3 separate regions of the Homo sapiens genome follow, and all the other regions are linked to region 1. Evidence: fine-mapped expression QTL. A gene starts in region 1. Each other region holds a variant in brackets. All regions are shown on one strand. Distances are between the middles of the regions.

Region 1 (4,240 bases):
GATAAAAAGTAAACTTTTCCAAGAAGTCTTACTTGATACTTACATTAACAAATAGAACTCATCATACATTCCCTGTACCATAAATTATTTGTGCATGCTTACAGCCTGTTTTAAAAATGCAAACTCCTTACGGGCTGCAGACACTCACACGCGTCTTTGTATTCCACCACCACCTTTCCCCACCAGATACTCAAAAGCACAGAGTGATGGCTCTGTAAATATCTGTTGAACAATGAACACTGTTTTTGAAAGTGGAAAATGCCTCTACATAACAGGTTATTGCCAAAACTGAGAAGTCCTTGGAAGTCTTTAAAAACATTTTTCTATGGCTTGGGAATAGTTTTGCTGAAGAAAAAAGAACAAATCAGATGACCTTGCAAGGCTGAGTCTGCGAATTGTATCAACTCTTTTAAAGTACTGCCTAATAATTCAAAAACAAACTATACACAAATGCTATTTACAAAAAGAGGAGCATTTATTATAATATACAACTTTAATAATAGAATGTTCTACCAAAAATTTGAGCTGTTCTTGTAATATTGGTAATATTTAGAGCTGTGTCCAAGGATTGCATAAAAAGCCGATTTACTCTCTTATTTCACACTTAAAAGTAGTAGGACAGAGAGAAAAACTGGCCATCTCAAACTAGTAACAGTACAAGATACTTGGAAGCACAAGTTCATAACATGGACATATTGATGTTATTGTGTGCACATCATCACTAAAAATATACCTACTGAACTCTAGAAAAGTTAATTTTGATGATAACAGCTTCATTAGTTTCTACGGAGAAGACATACAAAAAGTTTTCGTATTCTCTTCTCCCCTATTCAATGAATCTGCACAAGTTAAGTTGGCTAGTATTAGGTTACTTCAAAATCAGTTCGAATAAGGCCATGAAATGACTGGAAACATGCTGGTGTCTCCAGAAAAAAAACAGGGTTAACCACAAAGTTCCAAAATCACTGAACCCGCTTTTTAAATAACATCCTTCAGAAAAAAAATCTCAGTAAATCTCAGCAATAAATGGGACAGAAAACTGGATTCCACAGGAGAATGCACACACAAAAACAAACAGCACTGCATAGGATGAAAATCAGGATCTAAATTAATATGATGGCTATTCACCGAAAATGTAAGAAAGATTAAGCAGAGATTAAAAGCTAAATTTATAAACAGATGTTTTAAAAACCGTTAACAAGAAATTTAAAGACATTTATTTATTTTGTTCTAATATTGTTATATTCTATGTATTGTTGAGAGCCAACTTAAGTCCTTTGGAGATGAAGCTAGAGTGTAAATAAATTCTTGTTTTCGATTGTAGTATAGCACAGTATACAATTAGTTTTAAAATAAAGATCATTTTCGGCCAAAACGTGTATAGGCTTCTAAAAGGTTACGTTAAAGCTATAAAGTTTTCCAAATGATTTTAAAAGCACTTCTAGTTTTCCTAGGGCCGCCTAGTAAAGACAACTGGTTCTAAATACAGTTTCTAACTGGACCAGTGAGTAAGGGAGTTCGTTATCTAAAAAGGATCCTGCATTCCGCAGAGCGCAGCGAGGTGAGAGTCAGGGCCCGGCCTGGGACCGGAGGTAGCCGGACGAGTTTAGTTACCTCTCTGACAAGGAACACCTGGGCTGCGCGGGCGGCAGAAGCAGCCGCTGCAGGTGCGCGCGAGCCTCGGCCGCAGCAACGAACGCCGCCCCTGAGAAAGTTGGACTCCCGACCCTCGGCAAAGCAAGGAGGCTCTTTGCCGTCCCCAAACAGCTTCGCCCCGGGCCCGCCGACCCGGCCTGGCCCCACCGGGAAGAAAGGGCTGGAGCTACTCACCGTGCAGAGAGAGGAGCAGCAAAGGCGCCAGAGGGGAACGCTGAGAAGTCATCCCGGGGCCGCAGGGAGCGCGCCTGCCTCCTACCCGGCTCCCGGTCGCAACAGGAGAGGAGCGGGCGTGAGTCTCCGCGCTCTTGGGGCAGCCTGGTCCTCCCACACCCAGCGCCGGGCCGCTGTTCCCCGCGCAGAGCTGGGACTGTCAGACCCACAGACGAGCCAAGTGCAGCTGCAGCGCCGCCCGGCTCCGCGGACGCTGAGCTGTGACCAGAGGCGTTCCGGGCTCGCCAGCCGTGCCACCCAGCCCTGCCCCAGGACTAGCCGACCCCTCGCGCAGTCCGGGGAGCCACTCCCCCCAACTCACGCCCCGCTACTCCAGCCGCAGCTCGGCTCCTCGCCGCGCCGCCCACTCGCCCCGCTTGGTCTCCAGGGCAACCGCGGCTCCAGCGCGACGCCTGGCGGCCCACCCGCGGAGCAGAGCGCGGCGCGCAGCTGGCGCGGCCCCCGCCACCTGTGCACCGCGCCGCCCGCTCCCCCGCACGCCTCCACCAGCTCCGGGAACCGAGGGGTGGGCGCCCTCCTCGCCGGAGTTAGGGCCCCTCCCTTGGTCTAAACCCCTCCGCAAACAGGTGGTGTCGGCCTGATGCATCCTGGAGAGCTCTAGCAATGACTTTTCCACAGCCTTCCTCTGAGCCTGCAAGAGTCTTTCCTGTTGCAGTTTTCGGATAATTTATATTTGGCTTTTTCACTTTCAGTCCTCTCTTATAAAACCTAAATAATCTGAAAGAACCTGACTCTGGCAGAATTAGGAATTCCTAATTTTACAGTGTTTTGGTTTTGCGCTGTTTCCTGGATGCCTTTTCACCTTTCTTCCTTGAAAAGTGGATAGAGGCTGGACCATGCCCCTAACTCCCCATTCCTATCAGAGAGACTGCCATCTTCTCTTGCCCCTTTTGTAAACCTTATGTCAACTTCTAATATTTTAAGTTTTCCAGCTTAAACGTTAGTGCTTTCTTAAACTGACCTTAAGTATACATGTTAACTAGTGGGGTATGTACATTTATTGTAATCGTTGTTTAGTTGGGTTTTTTGTTTTTGCTTCTTGTTTGTTTGGGTTGGGTGGGGAGAAAGACTTTCCTAGCATCTGAAATTGTTTTACTTAAATATCTACCTACATCTTTTCTTGTAAAACCTATCTTTATTCTCTTATACTGGGCTCTGCTCTTTATTGTACAGCTCATAGTCACTTCCTGCTTCAGCCTCCAAACTGAGCCTTCTAAATTTGAGGACATACCTGCCCAGGGGATGCCAACCCATTTTGGTCAGTTTCTACAGCAGCATAAATTAGGGTTCTCGGAGCCATTCAGAAATTGAGCCCTCATCTGGCAAATACAATCCTCCCAGGGAAACTCAGAAACAAAAATAATATGCACAGAAGAAAAATATGTAAAATATTTTTTAAACATACATTTGGACAAGGATTGGAAGATATATGTAAAATTAAAATATCAAGATGGTGGAGTTATGGATGTACTTCTTTTTGAAAATGTGGATATTATATTTTTAAGGTTAAAAAAATGAAACATGTTAAGAAATGTTAATAACTTTTAACAAGAATATCCTGAAAGGATAAATTTTGATTATGAAGTAGAGATGCCTCAACTTTGCTCACTACTTCCAACTTGCTAGAATTCCCTACCAGATCTCTAATGGCAAGAAATAAATGATATGACAGTAGAGTTTTTCATATTAATAACAAATTTAAATTTCCAACTATGATATCACGAGGCTCATTCTCATTCTTTTAAACTCCAGGGTAAGGACTAGAGTTTCTTTTTTCCATCCAATTCAATCCCTCACCCTCTCTTGTACATATTCCTGCAGTCTAATCCAGTCCTAAGCAGGGTATAAGAGTAAGCAATATAAGAAGAAAAACAAGGAAGCGGTCAAGTGATAGGAGCTACTGAGAGCAACTCTTCATGTCACCATAATCCCAGATATAAATATAGAGGCAGAATATTTATCCTTTAAATAAATATCCTTTAAATAACCTAATAATCTGAGCTTAAAGCTCTGATAAAGCAAGTTATCTGATATATTTATCGCATCAATTTAACAACTATTTACCAAGTACCTACACTTTGTAAGGCACCAGGTTTAAGGTTAAACCAAAAAAAAAAAAATGACCCCTGACCCCAAATAAGTTCCAATTGCATATGGGCTATATCTGTGCTATCATAAATAAGCAGATAGAGTTCTGCCTCTTTGTCACCTAAGGATACTTCTGCCTTGCCAGGCAAGAGCTACTGAGTCATTAAGAGGACAATGCTCACAGTTCAGTAAAGGAGCCCTTTCAATAGAAAAAAAAAAGTGTGGCTTCTGAAGGGAGAGTGAGGATGATCAGATTTCAGGA
Region 2 (4,240 bases), 210 kb after region 1:
GGAGTCACAGAGTGAAATAAGCTACCAACTGAGTTTTGTGGTAATTTCAAGTGGGCATGAGCACCCTTGAACAGAATCCAGGGGTGGGCGGACAAATGGAAACTAATGCAGATACAAGGGCAGAAGCTGGGCACCCAGCATTGCAGGCAGATGGGGAGGGGTGTGACCTGAAAGCCATGCTTTCTTCCTCAGCAGGGAAGCTCATGGCCCAGGGCAGGTCTGAGTTCTACACACCAGCTGCCTGGATCTAAACTCAGTGCTGTTAGTGGGGCACCATGGGAGCAAGACTGGCCTCACCAACTCTGTGGGAGCTGGATGAGGACTTTCACTATGAGCTAATCCCCACTCCCCTTGCAAACTCTACTGCACAGCAGAAGCAGCCATACTCTCCTCTAGAACATAACCCCATTGGCCTGAGATCCACCCCTCCTATCCCCCAGCAGGCCATGGCAGGCCTTGCCCAGGGAGAATCTGAACTCAGGCCCGCCCAACCCTGCCCCGACCTGATGGTATTTATCTACCTGCCTTGTAGCTTAACACAAAAGACATAAACTCTTGAGAGCCTTATGGCCCTGCCCATTGCCTGGGAAACCAGAATACTTCCCCTAGACAACTTAGGCCAAGCTCAAATGTCACTGCTACTACCACAGCTGGTGCTCTCTTGCAAGTGTCCCCTCCTGGCTGGAAGCCAGCCAACTCAGGCCATTACAGCAACTCTTGGCAGAATAACGCTTCTTCCAGGAAGGAGAAAACAACAGCTAATACCACTCACTGCAACACCCTGGCTAACTAAAGGTCCTGAGTCTGTCCACATGACAACTTCACCGCTAGCATAACCAGCATTCAAGAAAGCCAGCACACTGAGTCTATCTACAACCAAGAAATCTCACAGACTACATCACTCCCCTGCCACCTCCATCAGAACAAGTGTTGGTATCCATGCTGGGAAACCTGAAGACAGATCACATCACAGGACTCTTTGCAGACATTCCCCAGCACCAGCTCAGAGCCTAGCTGGGTGGCTAGACCCAGAAGAGGAATAACAATCACTTCAGTCTGGCTCTCAGGAAGCCCCATTCCTAGGGGAAGAGGGAGAGCACCACATCAAGGGGTCACCCCATGGGACAAAAGAATCCAAACACCAGGCCGTGAGTTCCAGATCTTTCTACTGGTGGGAAGTTTCTCACAGCAGAGACACAATTGCAGTGCTGGGTACAGTAGAGAAAGTCTGCACCTCTACCCCAACAGGCAGGTGGCCTGTGTGATTATGAAGGGCACTAGAGAAGGCATCCTTGTTCCCCCTGGCACTACACTGCAGACACAGCTGAAGCTTCTTCCACAGGAATGCAGCATAGAGGCAGCTATAGACAGCCTTGCTGGAACAATCCAGGGTAAGCACAAGCCCCACAGGAGAAGCACCCCCCCAGATTCAAGCCTGCACAAGAGGCAAGAAACATCAACATTCCTGTAGATGAAAAGAGGTCCTGACTGATCTGAATAGCTGAAACACTGGGACAGGAATGAGACTGTGAGGTGAATAGCTTGATGACCTGAGAAGGGAGCTGAGGTAGCTCCTACTCCTCACCCTGATAAAACCTCAGGACATCAAATTGTGAGCTCCCGCAGCCATCCTCATCAAGGCTGGGGCCTGAGCCCACCATTGGGATTATATCTATTCACCTGCTTTAGCTACAACTAGTACCTACCCAAGAATACCTCCCCTATTGGCCTGAAGCCTGAATCGTCAACTCAGTAAATAAAATACTGGGGAAAAATTAAACAAATAAATATAGACCACAAGAGAATGAGATAAGCTT[C/T]AAGAGATCCCTGCCATTCCAAGTTCATAGGAGACAGTGAACTTGCCCACATACCAAGTACATAACTACTACAATCAGCATCAGGAGAGCCAGCACACAAAGACTCTCTATAACTAAGGAACTCATACAGAGTCTTCACCCCTGCAAGCACCAAGAATCAAATTAGACTGGAATAAATATTAAGGTCTAATCCTTAAGAGGGAAAAAATAAATTAAAAAAGCACAATCCCATCAAAAATAAATTCAAGAACAATTTGAAGAAATAGTCTACCAAAAGGAACCAGAAAAGTAATTCTGATAATATGACAAAACAGGGTTCTATGATACCCCCAAAATATAGTAGCTCCCCAACAATGGATCCAAACAAACAAACAAAAAATCTCTGAATTGCTGATAAAGAATTCTGAGGGTTGATAATTAAGCCACTCAATGAGAAGCCAGAGAAAGATGAAAACCAAATTTTCATTTTTTTAAAAGAAATTTAAAAAACAATACAGGATATGAATGGAAAATTTTTCAGAGAAATAGATATCATAATGAAAAAGCAATCACAACTCCTGGAAATGAAAGACATACTTACAGAAATACCAAATACAGGGGAAAGTTTCAACAATAGACTAGAACAAGTAGAAGAAAGAACTTTAGAGCTCAAAGACAAAGCTTTCATATCAACCCAATCAGACAAAAAAAAAAAAGAAAGAAAGAAAAAGAATTTTAAAAAATGAACAAAGCCTGCAAGAAATATGGGATTATATTAAATGGCCGAAGTTAAGAATAATTGGCATTCCTGAGGAAGAGAAATCTAAAAGTTTGGAAAACTTATTTGAGGGGATAATTGAGGAAAACGTCAATGGCCTTGCTAGATATCTAGACATCCAAATACAAAAAGCTCAAAGAACTCCTGGGAAATTCATTGCAAATAGACCACCACCAAGGCACATAGTCATCAGGTTATCTAAAGTCAAGACAAAGAAAAGAATCTTAAAAGCTGTGAGACTGGCTGGGTGTGATGGCTCACATCTGTAATCCCAGGACTTAGGGAGGCCAAGGTGGGAGGATCAACTGAGGTCAGAAGTTTGAGACCAGACTGGCCAACATGGTGAAACCTCATCTCTACTAAAAATACAAAAATTAACCAGGCATGGTGGCACATGCCTGTAATCCCAGCTACTTGGGAGGCTGAGGCAGGAGAATTGCTTGAACCTGGGAGGGAGAGGTTGCAGTGAGCTGAAATCATGCCATTGCACTTGAGCCTGGGCAACAAGGGTAAAACATCATCTCAGAAAAAAAAAAAAAAATCTGTGAGACAAAAGCATCAGGTAACCTATAAAGGAAAACCTATCAGATTAACAGCATATTTCTCAAAAGAAACCTTAGAAGCCAGAGAGGACTGGGGTCCTATCTTTAGCCTCCTTAAAGAAAATAATTGTCTACCAAGAATTTTGTATCCAACAAAACTAAGCTTAATCAATGAAACAGAGATAAAGGTTTTTTCAGACAAATGCTGAGAGAATTTGCCATTACCAAACCAGCACTACAAGAAATGCTAAAAGGAGTTCTAAATCTTAAAATACAATGTTTAAATACACCAATATAGAACCTCCTTAAAGCATAGATCTCACAAGGCCTATAACGCAATAACACAATTAAAAAAAAGTATTTAGGCAACAGCTAAAATGATGAATAGAGCAGTACCTCACATCTCAATACTAATGTTGAATGTAATGGCCTAAATGCTCCACTTAAAAGATACAGCATGGTGAAATGGATAAAAATCCACCAACCAAGTATCTACTGTTTTCAGGAGACTCACTGAACACATAGGGACTCACATAAACTTAAGGTAAAGGGGTAGAAAAAGATATTTCACCAAATGGAAATCAAAAGCAAGCAGGAGTAGCTATTCTTATATCAGACAAAACAGATTTTAAAGTAACAGCTGTAAAAATAGGCAAAGAAAGACGTTATATAACAATAAAACAATTAGTCCAACCGGAAGATATTACAATTCTACATATATATGCACCTGACACTGGAGCTCCCAAATTTATAAAACAATTACTACTAGACCTAAGAAATGGGATAGACAGTAACACAATAATAATGGAGGACTTCAATACTCCGCTGACAGCACTAGCCAGGTCATCAAGACAGAAATTCAACAAAGAAACAATGTACTTAAACTATACTGTAGAACAAATGAACTTAACAGATATTTACAGAACATTCTGCCCAACAACTCCAGAATATACAATACATTCTTCTCATCAGCACATAGAATATTCTCCAAGACAGTCCATATGATAGGCCATGAAACAAGTCTCAATAAATTTAAGAAAACTGAAATCATATCAAGTAGCTCCACAGACCATAATGGAATAAAACTGGAAATTAACTCCAAAAGGAACTCTCAAAACTAGACA
Region 3 (4,240 bases), 200 kb after region 1:
CAGGTTCCTGGGGCCAATCAGACAACCTCTTGTGGACTTAATTGTAGGAGGCTTAAATGCTAGGATTGGCAATTTTTAAAATAAGGATCTTAATCTTAGAAAATTCAGACTGGGAACATTGCTTATCTTTATTTATTTTTTATTTTTATTTTTTGAGACAGGGTCTCACTCTATTGCCCAGGCTAGAGTGCCGTGGCACAATCTCAGCTCACTGCAACCTCTACCTCCCGGTTCAAGCAATTCTAGTGCCTCAGCCTCCCAAGCAGCTGGGATTACAGGCGTGCACCACTACGCCCAGTTAATTTTTGTATTTTTAGTAGAGCCAAGGTTTCACCATGTTGTCCAGGCTGGTCTTGAACTCCTGGCCTCAAGCGATCCATCCACCTTGGCCTCCCAAAGTGCTAGGATTACAGGTGTGAGCCACCGCACCCAGCCCTGGGAACATGGCTTTTCTAAGAGCTATTTTTAGAGGGAGAGTCCCCTGGAAGAGAGAATCGCCAAGTGGAAGGAGGTTATGACCATAAAATTACTGCAGTGTTGAAATCAGAAAAGATCTTAAAGACCACACATCCACCTCCCTCATTCTACAGAGTGGGAAGAGATTTAAAAACCTACCCAAGGCACGGGGTACATGGGAAATCTCTGTATCTTCTGCTCAGTTTGGTTAAGAATCTAAAACTGTCCTAAAAAATACAGCTGAACCTTGAACAACATGGGTTTGAACTGCACGGCTCCACTTATACTCAGATTGTTTTCAACCAAATGCAGACCAAAAATACAATATTCCCGGTATGCAAAACCTGTGTATACAGAGGGCCAACTTTTCCAATATGTGGGTTCCTCAGGGCTGACAAAAGGACTTGAGCATGCATGGATTTGGGTAGATGCAGGGGTCCTGGAGCCAATTCCTTCCATATACTGAGGGATGACTGTAATTTAAAAAAACAAAAACAAAAAAACCTATCCAAGAATAGCTGCAAATATTCATAAACTAATATTGCTCAACTGCAGCTTACAGACTCTGTTCAAAGGTAAGACATTTATTCTAAAAGCAAGGAGCCATTATTAATAATTACTTAAGTATTAGGCCTTCATTACTAATCCTGCTTCTGAGACATCTGACCCAGTTAAAAATAATTCTTACCTATCTTTCTAAGTCTAAGTGCTCTCCCAAAAACTGTACAGAGAGCCAGCATAAGGAAGTTCAGAAGTAAGGTTTCCTTGGCTCCTGTGAGTAAACATCTGAAGTGTGAAGGGTCTGTCATCTGTCTGTCCATCTATGTTTCAAGAAAGACCAGCCAAGTGACTGGAGGCAACCCCTCTCACCGTTGTGTCCCAGCTATAAAATGATGAAAAATATTTATCTCACAAAGTTGCTCTAGGAATTTAATGAGATGATGCACCCAAGTACACTGTTATATCTGGTACATTTCCAGGACACAAGTTTTTTTTTTTTCTTTTTTGAGACGGAGTCTCCCTCTGTCGGCCTGGCCGGAGTGCAGTGGTGTGATCTCAGCTCACTGCAACCTCCGCCTCCCAGGTTCAAGCGATTCTCCTGCCTCAGCCTCCCAAGTAGCTGGGATTACAGGCATGCCCCACCATACCCAGCTAATTTTTCTTTATTTTTAGTAGAGACAGAGTTTCACCATGTTGGCCAGGCTGGTCTCAAACTCCTGACCTCAAATGATCTGCCCACCTCAGCCTCCCAAAGTGCTGGGATTACAGGCGTGAGCCACCATGCCTGGCCAGGAACACATGTATTTATTGGCTCTAATTACCAATGTGATTCATGTTCAAATGTTATCAGAATATTGCCCAAGATAATGTTATCTCTGGGATTAATGAGATGATTTTTACTTTCTAACTCTGTAATTTCCATTTTTTCTTTTAATGAGTATGTAATATTTTTATAATTAGAAAAACATAATGACTTTTTAAAGAAAGTTATTTTTAGGGCAAGTGACTCCTGGTTGGTGTTTGGGAAAGTGCCATCATATTGGATTTATTTACACTAACATTTAAGTAATTGAGAGACCCTTAATTCTCACAGGAGTCTCAGAGTTATTTTCTTTTTCAGTCAAGGCTGTCTTGAAGTGCCAAGGGACTACATCATCAGTATTGAGAACAAATTCAGGCAACATGAAAGAAGTTATTTAGGGCAAGATTTACCACTCTTTTCCTTTCTAGAAGT[C/T]TGCCCCGTAGTTAGTTAAAAATGGTCATGTTTTCATATTTGGTTTTCCTCCACTCAATTCAACCAGTCTTTTTCTGACTACCTGCTATTTTCAAGCAAAGGGAAAACCATATAAAGAGAATTAAAGCCTAGTCTTTGTACTCAGGGTTTATTTCTATCTTTTTCTAGATCTCAATGTCTGCAATTTCCTGTCAAATATGAGAACAACATCCCAAAGTGGGAGAACAGATGAAACAAGACGGATAAAATACTGAGAAGTCTTGAATATAAGTGATAGGTACCTGAGAGTCCTTTCTTTCTCTCTACTTTTGTGAATGCTTGAGATTTTCCATAATAGTTTTTAAAATCTGGCAAGGAAGATAAGCTATAACAAAAGGAAAGGAAACATAAGTGCTAAGTATCATTCTTGGAGAATCTCTAACCACACACATTTTTACTCCACTAAAGTGGGTGGGGAGGACACCATGTATCACTCTAAAAATATTTACTAAGCATTTGCACCAAGGAGAAAGGGTGTGTTCATTCGGCAGCTATGAGCACCAAAATCAGCATTCCAACATCTCTGAACCTATCAGGTAATTTTGCAGACACAGGGCATGTGAGTGGGCTTGATGTTGTCCCAGGCACATGATCCTGATGCCTTGGGGCTCCCTGGGGCAACACCAGAAGAAAGACTGATTATTTTGCTACTCTTTTTACTCCTGCAGAGTTCCTAGGAGTTTACCTTTTACACACACATTGCCCCACTTTCCTTAGGCCTTGGTATTCATTATCCCAATTACAACTCCTTTAGGAGACTTCTAAATGATCACTGGCCAGATCCTAAAGGGACAGTGGTTCCCTGGGCAGGGTAGGAATGGGATAAAAATGATGACAGCCATTTACATGTACAAGTCATTTAAACCCAGAGATTAAGCTCCTAACAGCCCAACCTAGAAGCATTTGAGTAATTTAAAAAAAAAATGATGGCACTGTATTTTAACCCATAGGATAAAGTGACTATCCACTAGTCTACACTGATAAAAATGATCAAACAAATAAATGAATAGAAGAGAAGGGGCGGCTCTTTTCTTAAATTCCAACTAGTAAGAAAGTGAGCGATGGAAAAAAAATCACTCTCAGCAAACACCACTTAATAACTGTTGCAGACAAGGTTCACCAGTGGATGCTAAACTAACAGGCAAAAATTTGAGGATAAACAGTATAGTCTCAAAGTATCTTCCCCAAGATAATTCTTAACTACAAAGGGAAAGACAGTAACTTTGTAGTGGAGAAATCCAATCGCTCACCACAAGTTCATTCCACGATATACCTAACTGGTACTCTTCGAAGAATCAAAATCATGAAAGACGAGGAAAAACTGAGGAACTATTTCAGATTGGAGGAGACTAAGGAGAAAGAAAAACTAAATAAAATGCAGGATCCTTGATAAAATACAATGGGAACAGAAAAAAAAAACAGACATTAGTAGGAAAATTGATGAATTTTCAATAAAGTTTGTAGTTTAGTTAATAGTATTGATCAATGTAGTATGGTTATGTAAGGGGTTAATATTAGGGGAAGCTAGGTGAACTGTGTATCATTTTTACAACTTTTCTGTAAGTCTAAAATTAACTAAAACTAAAAATAAAGAGTCAGAGACTAGGTATAACCTGAGTCAACAAATGATAGTAAATTAACTTAATTCTCAAGGAGAATCATTGTTTTTGTATTCCTAGTGCCTCAAACCAACCTGACACATAGCAGGTACTCAATTTAGTAACAAATGACGGACTAGGATATACTAGTTGAAATACACAAGGACACATCATAATTCCAGGCTACTGCTAAAAGGAATGAAACATTAAAAAAGAAGGTGGGAAATAAAGATTAATAATATGAGTACAAAATTCCACCTGAGAAGGATTTTAAAAATTAAAAAGGCTCACCCCGATACTAGCTCCCTTCAGTTCACTAATATCAACACTTTTCTAAGGGTAGGGTCCTCACCTTTAACAAATGGCACTTTTGGTCACACCCACTGCCTTCCGCTCCTCTGCCTCTAAAAGT

Evidence for each region. PIP is the estimated chance that this variant, and not a neighbour inherited with it, causes the effect. A credible set is the group of variants that fine-mapping cannot tell apart.
Region 2: its variant is the best candidate, but not a certain one, in a credible set for the expression of IGSF11 in whole blood (TOPMed, PIP 0.65).
Region 3: its variant is the best candidate, but not a certain one, in a credible set for the expression of IGSF11 in lung (GTEx, PIP 0.56).

Annotation. Positions count from the first base shown.
Region 1 is chr3:119,032,701-119,036,940 of GRCh38, forward strand. IGSF11 (immunoglobulin superfamily member 11) reads right to left here and starts at 2,146. Exons shown (of 7, transcript NM_001015887.3): 1 at 1,831-2,146. The coding sequence starts at 1,882. RefSeq lists a silencer at 2,067-2,426.
Region 2 is chr3:119,245,259-119,249,498 of GRCh38, forward strand. All of the region lies in intron 3 of B4GALT4-AS1 (B4GALT4 antisense RNA 1), which reads left to right. Among named protein-coding and RNA genes, the nearest start is that of B4GALT4, 6.5 kb to the left of the region's middle. The variant C/T (reference allele first, on the strand shown) is at 1,818.
Region 3 is chr3:119,232,673-119,236,912 of GRCh38, forward strand. B4GALT4 (beta-1,4-galactosyltransferase 4) reads right to left here. Exons shown (of 8, transcript NM_003778.4): 2 at 4,181-4,240. It overlaps B4GALT4-AS1 (B4GALT4 antisense RNA 1), which reads left to right. Exons shown (of 4, transcript NR_046574.1): 3 at 2,360-2,468. Among named protein-coding and RNA genes, the nearest start is that of B4GALT4, 6.1 kb to the right of the region's middle. The variant C/T (reference allele first, on the strand shown) is at 2,192.